Regions from separate parts of the Homo sapiens genome. Here region 1 is linked to region 2. Evidence: fine-mapped expression QTL. Tissue or cell type: tibial artery. Region 2 holds a variant in brackets; the other region holds the start of a gene. All regions are shown on one strand. Distances are between the middles of the regions.

The links. PIP is the estimated chance that this variant, and not a neighbour inherited with it, causes the effect.
Region 1: NKX6-1 starts here. The variant in region 2 is fine-mapped to the expression of NKX6-1 in tibial artery (GTEx, PIP above 0.99).

Annotation. Positions count from the first base shown.
Region 1 is chr4:84,495,149-84,503,254 of GRCh38, reverse strand. It overlaps NKX6-1 (NK6 homeobox 1), which reads left to right and starts at 3,963. Exons shown (of 3, transcript NM_006168.3): 1 at 3,963-5,696; 2 at 7,411-7,583. The coding sequence starts at 5,027. RefSeq lists an enhancer at 7,135-7,635.
Region 2 is chr4:83,819,205-83,827,310 of GRCh38, reverse strand. No RefSeq gene overlaps it. Among named protein-coding and RNA genes, the nearest start is that of GPAT3, 290 kb to the right of the region's middle. The variant G/A (reference allele first, on the strand shown) is at 4,797.

The DNA.
Region 1 (8,106 bases), 680 kb before region 2:
GTCCTGGACTTCGAGATCTTTTCTGTGGTAGAATGGATGGGGCTGTTTACACTGGTCGCTTCCCCACTTGTTTGGTGTTGGCCTCCACTGGGAGAGCGCCGAACGCAAGATCCTACGGCGCTTTTCCACGCTGTCTGCTTCAATTCTTCCCAAATCTCTACCTTAAGTGCTGGGCAGCAGAAGTTGTGGCAAAGGTGCAGTTTCCACTCTACGGCGTTTATAGGAAGCAAAGAAAGACAGACACGTTCTCCCCCTCGCCCTGCTATCCTTCCTCAAGGGTAGGTTGGTTCAAGCTTGGGGACATTCTTCCTTCTTCCTTGTATTTCTACCTAGCAATCAGCTCAATCCTTTTATGACATTCAGTTAAACCCAGCTGTCCCGCGGGTTCAGCACAAACAGGCCCTATTCGTCAGGTGAAATGGAGTTATTAAAGAAGTCATCCAGACACTTCAAGCAACTGCATTTTAGAGAGATTTTTGGACTGAAACACACACATAATTCCCTTCATTCCTCTCCCCATCCGACCCCACCCCACCCACTTTTTTTCTGCAGAATAGAAATTGACTTTCTGCTGCTACACTTGAGTATCCCGACATTTGACATTACTGTATTTGGGGCAAAACCGTTATCATCCCTCCCTTCAGAATGTTAGTACGTTTAGCTGAGAGTTCATTTGCATTCCTTCCGTTAGTTACCTTGAATTTGGTGGCTATTCTTTTAACTTAAAACAAGTATCAAAACGCGCTTGGCATTTCTGCGTCAAGGGTTAGACTGCAGGTAGAGAGGTCAAGTGGACGGCACAGACTAGGCAACAATGCCAGCAAGCTAAAAACAGTAACCAGAAAACAAATGCTGTTGTTTCCAGCCTCAAAGTCGAGGAGCACAGAACCTTCCTCACCGCCACCCTTTAAACCCTTTTTGCAACCTCAGAATTTGCCAAACCGCTTTCATTTATTTTTCAATTAAAATGCAAATCATTTGCTTTCAAACAGAGCCCCCCCATCCCCATTAGATATACTGCGTAGAGATGCGCCGGGATCCTTGCGACCACGTGTTACACGTCCACTCCCAAGGGGTACTTGAAAAAGTCCCACTTTATTAGGTCGTGGGCAGGAAGGCATGCTGGTTTCGGAGGATCCCCAAGAAAGAGCAAGTCCTGACTCTCAAAGGCATCTGAAGGCAATGCGTTAAGACTGCCCCACCAGAAACAAGCCTCCCGCGTCAGCGGGACCAGGACTCGGGTCCCGAAACTGGTTTCAACCACGCAGTTAGAGCGGAGGGCAGGGCGATCTTCCCCCGGGAGTGACAGGGGGCAGCCCACCCTCTCCGAGGACGCTCCATCGTTGTCACCGCTCCCAGCTGTAGACAGGCAGCAGATCCACTACAACTAGCACCTGGCAGGAGGCACCGGCCTGCCTTCCCGTGCTGCCCAGCGTGCGTCTGCAATACACGCTGCTCTACGCGGGATCGAGCACCCGGGGCTCACCCCCTCACTACCAGGGATCAAGGTACACGGATCCGGAATTTTTTATTGTCATAATTAAGAACAATGCTGCCATTTTAATTTGGCAATGCAAATGATACGTAAAAGTGAACGATGGAGACATCCTTACACCAAGCGTTGCAACTATTTACTCAAGACAGTTCACCCTGAGTTGGATTGAGTTGAATCTCAGTCTCAATCTCTCCCCCACCCCCGTGTCTCTCTTTGGCAACCCCGCCTCCAATAGTAGATACTAACATTCTCAATAGGGAAATATTCAACTCTCTTCCGAGTCATAATATTTACATGAGATAAAAAGGGGATCACTCTTTAACATTGGAATCTTTGGGGATGACTGGCCTCTTTTCCTCCCAATTCCTACCTAGTCCTTGAGAATGCAGTGTCCTGGAGGATGTGAGGAGGTCGCTGGAGGGCCAGGCGCAGAGTGGAGACTGAAGGTTGGGTACCACCGCCAGGGTGGAGTGTCCGAAGGCGAGAAACGTTTCGTTTGTAACGAAGCCAGAGACATAGGCCCCCCAGTTTCAAGGCTAGGACGGGCTATGCCTGCCACCATCCTCCCGCAGCTTCCTGGCCGAGGTGGCAGGGCGCTGGGGTTTAGACCCAAGCACTGGATCCCCGCGTGGAAATGCAGAAGGTCCGCACATCAGCTCTCTTCTGAAGCAAGTCTTGGCTTGACTCCTTAGCACTATTCATGCTGACGAAGGACTTCACCTTACCCCAGGTCAGATTCTAAAGTCCATGAAATAATAGATTTAAACCAGTCTTGAAGTTAATGAAGAAAGATAAAGGAAGAGGAGGACCAAATAACATTGCTTCTATCTTAGAAGGAAATAAAACTGGCAAATATAACCCTTCCTTCCCCCAGTTTCAGACTCAAACTCAAGCTGACCCTTAAAAACTAGTGCTTAGTAAACGAAGGTTATCGAAGCGGAGTACGCCCTCCTGGCTTTTCGTGCTTGGACCCAAATGAGCGCTTTGACACCAATAGCTAAACTCCATCCGTCGGTGGTGCTGATCAAATTTTATTCTTGAGCCATTTATTGCGTTTATTTCTGTTTTCTGCTCATTAAAATTGTAATTAATGATCTCATCCAAATTTGCTGTAGCGACCACCTTCCAATGGTGTGTTACTTTAACATGCTGAATTCTCAAAATTGTCAAAGGGTTTTCCTTCTCCAGCCCGCAGTTCAACCCTGTCGGGAACGTAAAGATCAGCCAGAGATGGAAGAGATTTAGAGAGTAAAGGAAGCCACCCTTCAACTCCTAAACTCTAGATAGACATCCCACCACCACTGTCCAGGAGCTGGTACATCTCCATCTCCCGTAGCAACTCTAGAATTGGGAGTAGGCGCCAGAGTTTTGGAGAGGGTTTTCAAAAGCTTACAGTTCCCAGGGTGTACCTAGATGCTTCTGTATCTAAAGTTTCCGCCTGAATTTTGATGATTCTACCCCCATGTAAACCCAAAGGAAATAACAACAATAATCAAAGGGAGAAAAGTTAAGGGAAAAAACTCCCTCACTGTTCTCAGGTATAAACATCATCTGACAGATAAATATTCCTATTAAACGGATTCAGTTTTCAGCGAATTGAGTAACCCATAAATGATAATGAACGCGGTGGGAAGCGACGGGCGGGGGGGAACTCGGGAATGAAAAAAAAAATAAAGTGGAGGAGAAAGAACAGAAAAGGAAAGCAGGAGGTGGAAAGATGGAAGAGGACGATCCTTTGGCCTACAAGGGGATTAAGGACATCTATAAGGCTTAAGGAGCAACAAATTAATTTACACAATTCTGGGAGAGCCCAGATGGCCTTTAATTAATCCCTTCAAAAGAAGGAGCCAGGCCAGGGCTGCGCCGGCTGCCTGCTCCATTAGCTCCATTTTACAAGGGACCAGACTTGGTTCGAGGTGAGGCGCCCTCCAGAGCTGGTGGGGGAAGGGGATAGGATGACGCGAGCGGGCTAGTGGGGAAGCAAGGGAAGAATATGAACTGCTTTTCCATAAAAGGGCTGAGTTTTCATTATTCCTCTCTTTAAAAAGTAATACCCTCTTCGTCTCTGCTTCCCCCTCCCCTTTCTCATTTTATTTAGCACAATTAATTGAGGCGGCCACTGGCCCCAGCGCGGAACCGCACCACTCACCAGCTCCCGCCCCTCCTGGCCCCGCCCACAGGAGAAAGAAGTAGGGAGCGGGAGGGGACTAGGCGGGCGCGGCCCTACGCCTGGCCCGCCTCAGCCAATCAGAGGGTGCGGCGCCCCCGAGTGGGCGAGCCCCAGGGGCGACGCAAGGATCGAGGCGGCGAGCTATTGGACACGGTGGTTACGCCCCCGGCCTGCGCCCGGCTCGCCGGCCCCCGCAGCCTCGGAGTGACGTCCCTCAAAGTTCTCATTTTGGTCCCCCACTTCCCCCTCCCTTTCGTCCCCCAGCTAAAGAGGGGTAGGGAGTGATGCAAATGTTTTATTACCTTTGAGAGCTTCATCTGAACTGTCAGGCCCGGAGGGAGAGAGGAAAGGAGAGAAAGAGCGGAGGAGCCGCGGAGAGGGTCAGTTTGGCCAGAGGACAGGACTTAGAAGACCGAAGCCTGGGAAGCCGCGAAGAAAATGCCAGAGAGGAGAGTCAAAGGCTGAGAGTGAGAGGGAGAGAGGGAGCGGGGGTGGGGCGGGGGTCGCCGGGCCCGTTTGCAGAAGTGGACTGACGAGCGGCGCCGAAACCCAGCCGTCAGACTTTTCACACTTAGTCTTTTGTTTTTCTGTGTTTTTCCTCCCCCTTTTTCTTTTCAATATTGCAACTCCAGTGCCCCGTGGGCCAGAGGGCAAGGCGGGTGGAGGTGAGGACCTGGGAGCCGCGGGGATCCGTGGCACTGCCCTTTCTGGCGCAGCAGCCCGGGGCAGCGTGGGCGGAGGAAGCCCGCACAGAGGCTAGATCTCCCGCGGGCTGGATGCGCTTTCTCCCCGGGCACAGTGAGCGTCGAATGCGAATCAGCCGCGCGACCGAAAGAGCAGAGCATCCCAGTAAGATCAGAGGAGCGCCACGGGCTGCACAAGGCGTCCTTTGAACCTCCCCAAAGAAAGCAAGCCACCCCCACCCTCCAACTTCAAAGTGGAGATTCGGCAACTAACTTTGCTACAAACTCTCCGGAGCCAGCCTGGGTTTTGTTTTGCTTATTTCCCGGGGGCAGAAGATGAGAAGTAGCGCACTTTGAACAGCTAGGAAAAGTGAGGAAGAGAGAATAGCCAGGGATCGAATCTAGGACTCGCGGAACGAAAGGACTGCCTAGCCCGCCGGGACGCCTGCTTTTCTCGGCGAGCTGCCGCCTCCCGCGTGGAGGGTTTGGACATCTCTGCTGCGCAGCTAGGCGAGCAACTCCCGGCAGCGGCATTTTTGGTTCAGTTGGCAGCTCGCCTCCGGGCGCGCCGAGTGCCTCTCCGCTCGCGCCCTCGGCGCTTCCGGCTCCTCTGAGCCCCGCGGGGGGCACCAGCCAGCGCCCTCGCTGCAAGGCTACGGTCTCCGGCGTGGCCGTGGGATGTTAGCGGTGGGGGCAATGGAGGGCACCCGGCAGAGCGCATTCCTGCTCAGCAGCCCTCCCCTGGCCGCCCTGCACAGCATGGCCGAGATGAAGACCCCGCTGTACCCTGCCGCGTATCCCCCGCTGCCTGCCGGCCCCCCCTCCTCCTCGTCCTCGTCGTCGTCCTCCTCGTCGCCCTCCCCGCCTCTGGGCACCCACAACCCAGGCGGCCTGAAGCCCCCGGCCACGGGGGGGCTCTCATCCCTCGGCAGCCCCCCGCAGCAGCTCTCGGCCGCCACCCCACACGGCATCAACGATATCCTGAGCCGGCCCTCCATGCCCGTGGCCTCGGGGGCCGCCCTGCCCTCCGCCTCGCCCTCCGGTTCCTCCTCCTCCTCTTCCTCGTCCGCCTCTGCCTCCTCCGCCTCTGCCGCCGCCGCGGCTGCTGCCGCGGCCGCAGCCGCCGCCTCATCCCCGGCGGGGCTGCTGGCCGGACTGCCACGCTTTAGCAGCCTGAGCCCGCCGCCGCCGCCGCCCGGGCTCTACTTCAGCCCCAGCGCCGCGGCCGTGGCCGCCGTGGGCCGGTACCCCAAGCCGCTGGCTGAGCTGCCTGGCCGGACGCCCATCTTCTGGCCCGGAGTGATGCAGAGCCCGCCCTGGAGGGACGCACGCCTGGCCTGTACCCCTCGTGAGTACTACCACCCGCGCCCCGATGCCTGCCTGCCGTGCCTGTTCTGCCCACTCCCGGGTCGCGGCCCCTGGTGTGCATGCCGCTCAGTCCATCCTGTGGCCCGCCCCAGTAGTTTGACAGCGCCGGAATCACACCAGTTAGGTTGGGCCAGGGCTTCCAGAAAGGGATTCTCGCTTTTCTGAGCTCGCGTGGCTGTATCCAAGCGCCTCCCTCTCTCTAAGTCTTGAGTACGCCTGGGCTGAGCCGGTGTGTGTGTGTTCGTGTGGACCACAACGCGGTGAGGGACGTGTGTCTCGTCCGAGGCCCTGGCTGTTCCTGAAACGGCCTGGCCAGGACCGCAGGCCTGGCCTGGATTAGAAAGATGGGGAGGAGAGGGGAGGAGAGGCCACTGCATCTCTGCTTTCCCGGCTCCTCCCTGTCGTCCAGCGCCCCATTCCGCCTTCGCCAGCCTAACCCGCTGCCTCTCTTCGAAGCAGTGAGGCCCGGCAGCGGTGAGCCCTCCACCGCCCGGGAAGTGAGTGTATTTGCATGCACGTCTCCGCCTGGGGTGTCCCCACCTCACCTCTTCGCCCTCGCCGCCCGAGTACACTCGGCCTGGGTGAGCCCATTGAAGACAGTCCAGCGTCCCCAGGGCAGGGCGAGCGCTTCCAGCCGCTCACCAGCGCTGGGCCCGCGCTTTCCCACCTGCCTCCACTCTGGGGGCTGGCACACGCTGCGTCCGGGCACATTTGGGGACATCGTGGAGCTCAACACCCTAACACAAGAGCGAGCCAGGAGAAGAGTGAGATGAAGGGACACGGCCTGGGGAAAATGTACCATCCCGCAAAGACCTTGCTTGAGGCAAACTGAGTTGCCCCAAGATCACGCTAGTCTTCGGGGTAGTAGGCCGCAGCGCCGCGGAGGCTCCCAGCCTTCCAGGTGGACTTCAGGGCCCAGCCTGGGGTCCTTTTCTCGCTCAGTTCTTCGCCTTTCAGCGAGTCTCCGAAGTTTCTTCCAAGTCTCCGGACCTCCTTAGTGCGGCTGAGCGGCAGTAACTGCGGGAAGTTGCGAAAGCCAAGTGGAGGTTCTCTTGGGAAGCCCGGGGACTGTGGCAGCCGGGCCTGGTGGGGGTGCCAGGGAGACGCTATTGTATCGGTTTTGATGGCCGTATTAGGGGCCGCCAACAAAGGCTGTGCCCCCTCCCCCTTCCCCTCTCCCCCTCGGCTGCAGCGACGTTAGACTTGGGGGCGATTTAGCTCTCTTGTGTGCAAAAACAAGGACCCCTTTGTTGCCTGGACACAGGTTAGGGAAGCGTTGAAGGAAAAAAAAAAAAATCTAGTTATTCTCACTTAAAGGCTCCGGGGCCGAACGAGCACCGACTGGATTAGGAGGCGAGAGTGGCCTTTTTCTGGCAGTCGTTAATTTAATGGGGCCTTGCGATTAGGCTCTGGCAAACTTTAGCAATAGGCTCCCTAGCTGTTTGACGTCGGTGTTGAGCAGAAGGTATTTACTGCTGCGCCAAACACGCGGCTTTTAAAAAACAGGTGGATGTAAAAAAGCAAAGGGAGACGTGCCGTTAGTCTGGAAGCGCCACTACACTTCTGGTGTCCGCCACAGACTGAGCTTTCTTTCCCCACAAAACATTGTTTTTCGAGTTCGTTTTTTCCCCCTAGTGCAGCCGCTTGTAACCGATTGTTTTTCCCCCTCTCTCGTTGTTTATTGGTTCTCACAGATCAAGGATCCATTTTGTTGGACAAAGACGGGAAGAGAAAACACACGAGACCCACTTTTTCCGGACAGCAGATCTTCGCCCTGGAGAAGACTTTCGAACAAACAAAATACTTGGCGGGGCCCGAGAGGGCTCGTTTGGCCTATTCGTTGGGGATGACAGAGAGTCAGGTCAAGGTGAGTGGACCTTGCATACCTGGAGGGATAGGTACCGCCCCTGTCGCGCGCGCGTGCACACATGGGCACACACACACACACACACACCCCAAACTAACAAACAGTCGCCTGGGAGGTGCGAATCCAAGGAGCCTGGGGAGAAGTTGAGAGCAGTGAAGGAGGGTGGGGACTACAAAGGCGCTGGGGTCTTGCAGGCGGGCAAACTCTTGATGAACAAAAGGAATCAAGTCCCCGCCTTTGAAATTAGGTTAATCTATATAGCAGCATGTGCTGGGGGACTCACCATTATTAGAGAATAAAGGCATTACTGAAATATCAGCCCAGAGAATAGATCAGGCCAGTTAGACAGCTTCTACATATCCTATCTGTAGCGATATCCAAGTTTTTGTTTGTCAATTCAGGCTCCACTAGTTATATAATTTCCTAATGTAGATCAGTATTACAGGGCTACTGTATTAATTCGCAAGTAAAAATAAATAAATCCACAGGATCTAACCACTTGCCATAGATGAACCTGTTTTTT
Region 2 (8,106 bases):
TCCAAATGGAGACTGAAACTGTAGGGTGCTTTGGTTAGTTGGAAGCTTTATTTGTACTTTGACTTTGGTTTGGAAGGACAACATTTTGAAGATTTTCTTATCAGTAGTTAGTCAATGATTACTAAGGTAATTGGGTTCTCTGATGTGATGGATTGAAGTGCCCAAGAAGATGTCACTCTCAAATGTAATCTCTGTGAGTCTTAAGCACCACCTTTCTTGGTCCAAAGAAAGGCAAACTGAGACACAAGAGAAGAGAAAAATACTATGCACATTATAAAAATCTTCCATTTGTAAACTTAATAGGACAAATTGAGTTTTGAGAAAATACTTCCATAACTAAGGCATCTGGCATAATGAAAAAAAAATAGAATTTAGATAGCCTTGTTGATTTATTGTTGCTTAACAGTTAAAAGGAAATTGTTGAGATTCCTGTCTTATTTTGAAGAAATTAGCAGCTTCTTTCATCAGCAAATGTATATTTTTTGTTTATGAGAAGCATATAAAGACATTATTGATAGCACTATGAAAATTATATGCTAAAAAATTACAACAGCCCAAACTCCTACAGCCTTAAAGAAATTGAGGCATATCTAACAGGAATTGGTGCTCAAGGTTTTTTTAAGCTCACTTGCCTCACATTCATCTTCCATTATTTTTAGTTGGTCCCTATGGGAATCTATGATGGAGCTTGGAGAATGTTTCCTTATGTTCTTTTAATTTCAAGAGCACTTGCTATTTTTTTTTTAAGTTCTGTTATGGGCTGCCTGTTTGTGTCCCCCAGAATTTCATGTATAGGTACACTAAACCCCGGTGGGATTGTATTTGGAAGTGAGGCCTTTGGGAAGTAAGTAGGTTTAGATGAGGTCATGAGGATGTTGTCCCAGTGATGGGATTCATGCCTTTATAAAAAGATGAAGGTTGAATTTTATCGAAGGCCTTTTCTGCATCTATTGAGATAAACATGTGGTTTTTGTCATTGGTTCTGATCATACAATGGATTACGTTTATTGGTTTGTGTATGTTGAACCAGCCTTGCATCCCAGGGATGAAGCCAACTTGATCGTGGTGTATAAGCTTTTTCATACGCTGCTGAATTCAATTTGCCAGTATTTTATTGAAGATTTTCACATGGATGTTCATGAGAGATATTGGTCTGAAGTTTTCTTTTTTTGTTGTGTCTCTGCCGGGTTTTGGTATTGGGATGATGCTGGACTCATAAAATGAATTAGGGAGGAGTCCCTCTTTTTTAAGGCACTTATACACCATGGAATACTATGCAGTCATAAAAAAGAATGAGATCATGTTCTTTGCAGGGACATGGATAAAGCTGGAAGCCATCATTCTCAGCAAAACTAACAAAGGAACAGAAAACCAAACTCCCCATGTTCTCATTCATAAGTGGGAGTTGAACAATAAGAACACATGGACACAAGGAGGGAAACATCACACACCAGGACCTGTTGGGGGATGGGGGCAAAGGGAGGAAGATCATTAGGACAAACACCTAATGCATGCGGGGCCTAAAACCTAGATGATGGGTTGATAGGTGCAGCAAACCACCATGGCCCATGTATACCTATGTAACAAACCTGCACATTCTGCACATGTATCACAAAACTTAAAGTAAAATGAAAGATAAATAAAAAATAAATAAATTGTTTAAAAAAGATGAAGGGACCAAAGCCATCTAGTCTGCGGTATTCTGTTATAGCAGCCTGAGCTGACTAAGATAAGTCCCAATAAGTTTTTCCCCCAAAAAAGTATTAATGCTTTTTGGAAATTACTTATTTTATCAGATAAGAAAATACCATTTTGATGGGAAAATATCTAACATTATTTTAGGCCAAATATTAAACTAATTCAAATTTGCCCTCTCTAACCTTTTTTTAGATTTGCCCTACAGGCTGCCCCTGAAACTTTGAATACTGCAAATGAATTTAAGAGCACAACATAGCCATTTCTCCACTGGTTGGCAACCCAACATCTCCCACAATCCCCAGATGTCCCAGCCTGACTTATTGACCATGTAACACAGTTCTGACCAACAACATATAAACTTGAGTTTGTTAGGTGGGACTTCTAGGACAGCTAGAATCTATCTCCTGATTTTTAAAAATAGAAATGAGGGGATGAATTCAGTTGACATAGCCCTTAACTTCTTCCTCCTTCCTCAACTTTCTGACCGGAATGCAGATGTTTGGTCTGGAGGTGCAGCATCTACCTCGTAACCACGAGGCAACAAGCTGGAGGACAAAAACATACACAGAAGGGATGACAGAGCAAAATATGGAAAAGGCTTAGTACTTGATGGCATCACTGAAGTATCATACTAGCCATAAGCAACCTACCCCAGAACTTCTTATTGTGTAAAATAAACAAACCCCATATCTTTAAGCCACTGGTAGATTTTCTGTTGCTATCAGCCAACTGCATTGCTGATGCTAACATAACCCGACGAAAGTAAAAACAGGAAGGAGGGGATGGTGTGAAGAATAAAGTCATATTTTTTTTAGAATTACGAGCCAAGCAAAACAAAGTAGGAGAGTCAACCAAAGTTTTCAAGATATCAAAACCCAGCATTATGTGGTAGAACATGGTCGAAGCCTAGCCACAGATAGAAATGTACACCTTTTGTTGAGAATGATGGTTTCCAGCTTCATCCATGTCCCTGCAAAAGACATGAGCTCATCCTTGTTTATGTCTGCATCGTATTCCATGGTGTATATGTGTCACATTTTCGTTATCCAGTCTATCATTGATGGGCATTTGGGTTGGTTCCAAGTCTTTGCTATTGTGAACAGTGCTGCAATAAACATACATGTGCATGTGTCTTTATAGTAGAATGATTTATATTCCATTGGGTATATACCCAGGAATGGGATTGCTGGGTCAAATGGTATTCCTGGTTCTAGATCCTTGAGGAATTGCCACACTGTCTTCCACAATGGTTGAACTAATTTACACTCCCACCAACAGTGTAAAAGTGTTCCTATTTCTCCACATCCTCTCCAGCATCTGTTGTTTCCTGACTTTTTAATCATCACTAATCTGACTGGCGTGAGATGGTATCTCATTGTGGTTTTGATTTGCATTTCTCTAATGGCCAGTAATGATGAGCTTATTTTCATGTTTCTTGGCCGCATAAATGTCTTCTTTTGAGAAGTGTCTGTTTATATCCTTTGCCTACTTTTTGATGGGGTTGTTTTTTCTCGTAAATTTGTTCCTTGTAGATTCTGGATATTGGCCCTCTGTCAGATGGATAGATTGCAAAAATTTTCTCCCATTCTGTAGGTTGCCTGTTCCCTCTGACGGTAGTTTCTTTTGCTTGCAGAAGCTCTTTAGTTTAATTAGATCCCATTTGTCAATTTTGGCTTTTGTTGCCATTGCTTTTCATGTTTTAGTCATGAAGTCTTTGCCCATCCCTTTGTCCTGGATGGTATTGCCTAAGTTTTCTTCTGTGGTTTGTATAGTTTTAGGTCTTACATTTAAGTCTTTAATCCATCTTGAGTTAATTTTTGTATAAGGTGTAAGGAAGGGATCAAGTGTCAGTTTTCTGTGTCTGGCTAGCCAGTTTTCCCAACACCACTTATTAAATAGGGAAGCCTTTCCCCATTGTTTGTTCGTGTTAGGTTTGTCATAGATCACAGGAACAGAAAACCAAACACCGCATGTTCTCACTCATAAGTGGGAGTCGAGCAATGAGAACACATGGACCCAGGGAGGGGAACATCACACACTGGGGCCTGTTTGCGGGTGGGGGAGCTAGGGGAGGGGTAGCATTAGAAGAAATACCTAATGTAGATGACGAGTTGATGGGTGCAGCAAACTACCATGGCACGTGCATACCTATGTAACAAACCTGCACGTTCTGCACATGTATCCAGAAGTTAAAGTATAATAAAATAAATAAAATAAAATAAATACAGCAAAAGTTTAAAAAGCAGATTCTAGAGTCCTACCCTAAAATAAAATAAAAGAAAAAAAAAAGAAATGTTCACCTTTTCAGCTAACAGCAGTATTGAGGAGTTCTCAAAGTGAAGGACTGAAGGGGTTCTTGAGACAAGTCACTCAGAGCAATAAGCCTCTGTTGCATCGTTTTGAAATGGAACATTTATAGCACATTTTAAGTCAATACCTATGTGGTTTAGGTTACAGGAGGGCAAAGAGGTGAAAACTTGCAGGTAGAGAAGTTAAGGCTTCTTAAGACCTGATTCTATTTATTTAGTTTTAGTCTTGCCTGAGGTGGGGTGGGGAGCTGGAGAGATGCAGGGTGCTAATTGTTTGCTATTTATTTAAAGTCCATCTATTCAGAGGGAATATTCCTTAAGGTCAAAGATTGAATCTTCTAATCAAAACTAGTGCCTGACACACAGTGGGGATAAATGCTCATTGAATAAATGAATAAATGCCATTTCTATATAATTCACCTGTTGCATTTTTTTCAGGCTTAAATTCTCTTTAAAAAAATGATTCATACGGTAAAAAAAATTAATTTCTGATTTTTTTCTTCTTGATATTGCTTGACCTTTCCTCATAAAAACACTATTTATCTCTTAACATAGCTCCAGTTTCATTCCCACCATAAGGGTCTGTGAGGAATCTATTGCTGTAAATGGAATAAATGAAGACAGCAAGAGTTCTGTGTCCTTATATTCATCTCCCGGGAGCCTCTACTACATTTCTGTTGCTTCTCTACCTTCTGAGAGTAAATGGAACAAAAATCTAACACTGTATTTAATGAGAAAATAATTGACTATTTCCTTTACAACACAGTTAGAGCCAAAAACATCCATGGG[G/A]ATCAGTTTCCAACATTTTCACACAGAATTGCACAAATTCCAGTGATGATAATATAAAACTTAATTCGGATTCCATTTGTTTTTCACTTGCCAGGGGGAGATTTGAAACAATGGGTAATCCCACAGTTCTCTTTTTTATAGAAAATTTAAATAAACAGCTTTCTATTTACGGAGTGAGGAAAGCTCTGCCTGACAATTATCAAGCAAGCAAGGCTGAAATACCGCACCACAGAGCTCATCCATCTATGGTGTTTTTTCACATGGCTGTGGCACTGAATGATGGCAGCAAAGCCATGCTGGGAACTTGAACGCCTTTTACCCAGCATGGTGGCATTGAGGTTGTTTTAGGCCTTGAGAATAATAATGACTTAAGTTGTTATAGTACCTTTTAAGTCAAAAGATGTTTAAGTGATTTTCCCTACCCACCAGGTTTAAACCTTCGTTTGCTCTCGCATTTTTAAAGCATTGCAGCATGAATCTGAGACCACAAGCACAAGTGGTGCAAGTGGCTCAGAGAGACGAAGAGTTTGGGAGGCAGAGTGAAGAGCCCACAATAAAACTGATAGCAATGGATGGAGTCACATATATTTGATGGAGTCACATGTATTTGACATAAGGGAAACAGCCTCTGGGGTGCACTCAGAGGTAATCACCAGTGTTCATTAAAAGAGAAGGTGGAATTTAGCAGACTTCTAGTGTGAATCCATCCCAAATTGGCACCATTTAAACCCTCTGCATGAACACCACTCAGAACTTAATCTTCCTCCTCAGCATGAAGCTTCATTCTGCACCTTTCTCCCAGGCTGAGACTCCAGGGCCTGCTGCTTTCCTGGGAGAGCAACAGGAAAGAGTTGATGGCTGAGTAAAGTTGCAGGGCCATTAGTGACAAGGCAGGCCATGACCCCATATCCTGCCATCCCTGCTGCTCCATTACTACAGTGGCTCTCAATTCATAGGAATAAAATAAAGGAAGAGAAGGGCCAATTTAACACAGCAGCAAACTGTTTTTTTTTCTAAGCAGTCAACCATTTTGTCAGTAGGAAATAGTTGTCTTCACAGATGTCAAGCAGTTAATCACCCCCAAAACCCCAAGAAGAAAAAAGGGATGCAGGTGCTGACATCTCAAGGTCTTGAACACCAAGTTTATCTATTCTTAAAGTGAGTTGCAATTGATTTCTCATCTGTAAAATACCTACAGTGTTGCTGTGAATTTAAATGACTTGATTTATGAAAAAAATAGAAACAAAACTCACATATAGTTAAGTACTCAGTACTTATTCAGTCAATCCAATGTCAATTTTTGAGAACAGAACAAGCACTGAAGAGTCAGCATGGAACCAGGTGGTTCGAAAAAACTACATATTAATTACTAACATATAGGAAAAGTTTGCAACAAGTTTTGTTTGTTTGCTTCTACTTTTAGATTCAAATTTTCTATCACTTAGAAAAATAGTCACAAGGCTAATTTAGATCTCTGAAGGAACAAATTGTAAAAATTTTTCTTAAAATGTTTTTACATAAATTTTAAAAATTGGAAGCAATGTCTTTCTATTATATACCATAAAAACCTATATTAGTCAGTGAAGTCACCAAATTCAATTTTGTTACTACTCAAAATATTAATTTTTAAAAAGTAAATGACAAAATGGTTTTAGCTTCATTGTCAATAGTGAACTCCTCTGATAACTTTTTTAAATTACCTACTTGTATTTTAACACTTGCATGGAAAGTTTTAAGGTATTCAGTAGCTTGATAAAATCAAGCAAATTGTTACCAATGGAATAAATTTCTTCATCATACTCAGATTCAGTCTTCGGTAATTTAATTCAAATTTTAAAATTAACATTAAATAAAGTGCATCAAGATTCTCAGATGAACAGTTTGATTAGTCTGTATCTAAGTGTTCTGGTTAGTCTAAATAAAGATCAATGTGCTAGAAAATTACAGGAGAAATAAAAAATGAATGACCTGCCATAATTTGATTAGTAAAATTGAAACATGTATTTTTTATGTAAATTCAAGATGCACAATGTCTTGTTTCTTTCCTCTTCTTAGAATCAATGAAGAAATAAATATGTATTATATGCCTCTAATGGCCAAGGCTCTGTGACCAAAGCTGTGGAACCCCTAGAGATTTATCAATTACTGTTCCACAATGGTTCTTCATCTAGAAAATGGTAGGGCAAATTGGATGCAGTCCTTTTATAACTATAGTTAGAGTAGTCTTTATTGAATAAGTTTCTTATTTAGATATCCTACCACTGTAACACCATCTATATATTTTATCTATCTGTTAATCTCTTGTCATGTTACTAAAATGAATTAACAATAATTTACCAATTGGAAGAGCATGCCCAATAGACATTTTATCTGTAGCTCACATAATAAGTGGCCAATGCCTAGCGCAAGAATGAAAAGGGAAAGGGAAATAATATTTGTAAAATGTTTAGACAGGGTTTACTATGTGTTGGATGTTTTATACATTTTCCCTCATTAATACTCATAATAATCCTATGTGGTAGATATTATTATATCTATTTTATAAGTGAGCAGAATGAGAGTGATATCAGCAAGATGACAGAATAGGAATTTCTAGCACTCGTCCTCTTGCAGAAATATGAAATTAAACAACTATCCACACTTAGTATATCATCACAAGGGCTAAGAAATTCAAGTGAGAGATTACAGCTCCTGGGTGCAGCAAAAAGAGAGATAATGGGCTGATATATTCAAAGTGCTAGGAAAACAAAATCAGTCAACCAAGAATACTATACCCAGCAAATCTGTTCTTTAAAAATGAAAGAAGAAAAATACTTTCCCAAGCAAACAAAAGCTGTGGGAGGGCATCACCACTAGAACTGCCTTATAAGAAGTGCTAAAGGGATTTCTTCAAGTTTAAATGAAGACACTAACAGCATGAAAGCATATGAAAATATAAAACTCACTGTAAATATAAAAATACAGTTAAGTTCAAAATACTCTAATATTTTAATGGGGGTACATAAAGTACTAAAAACAAATACAGCTACAATAATTTTTTTTTTCGAGACAGAGTCTTGCTCTGTTGCCCAGGCTGGAGTGCAATGGCATGATCTCAGCTCACTGCAACCTCCCACCTCCTGGGTTTAAGCAATTCTCCTGCCTCAGCCTCCTGAGTAGCTGGAATTACAGGCGTGTGCCACCACACCCAGCTAATTTTTTGTATTTTTAGTAGAGACAGGGTTTCACCATGTTGGCCAGGCTAGTCTTCAACTCCTGACCTCATGATCCACCCACCTTGGCATCCCAAAGTGCTGGGATTACAGGTGTG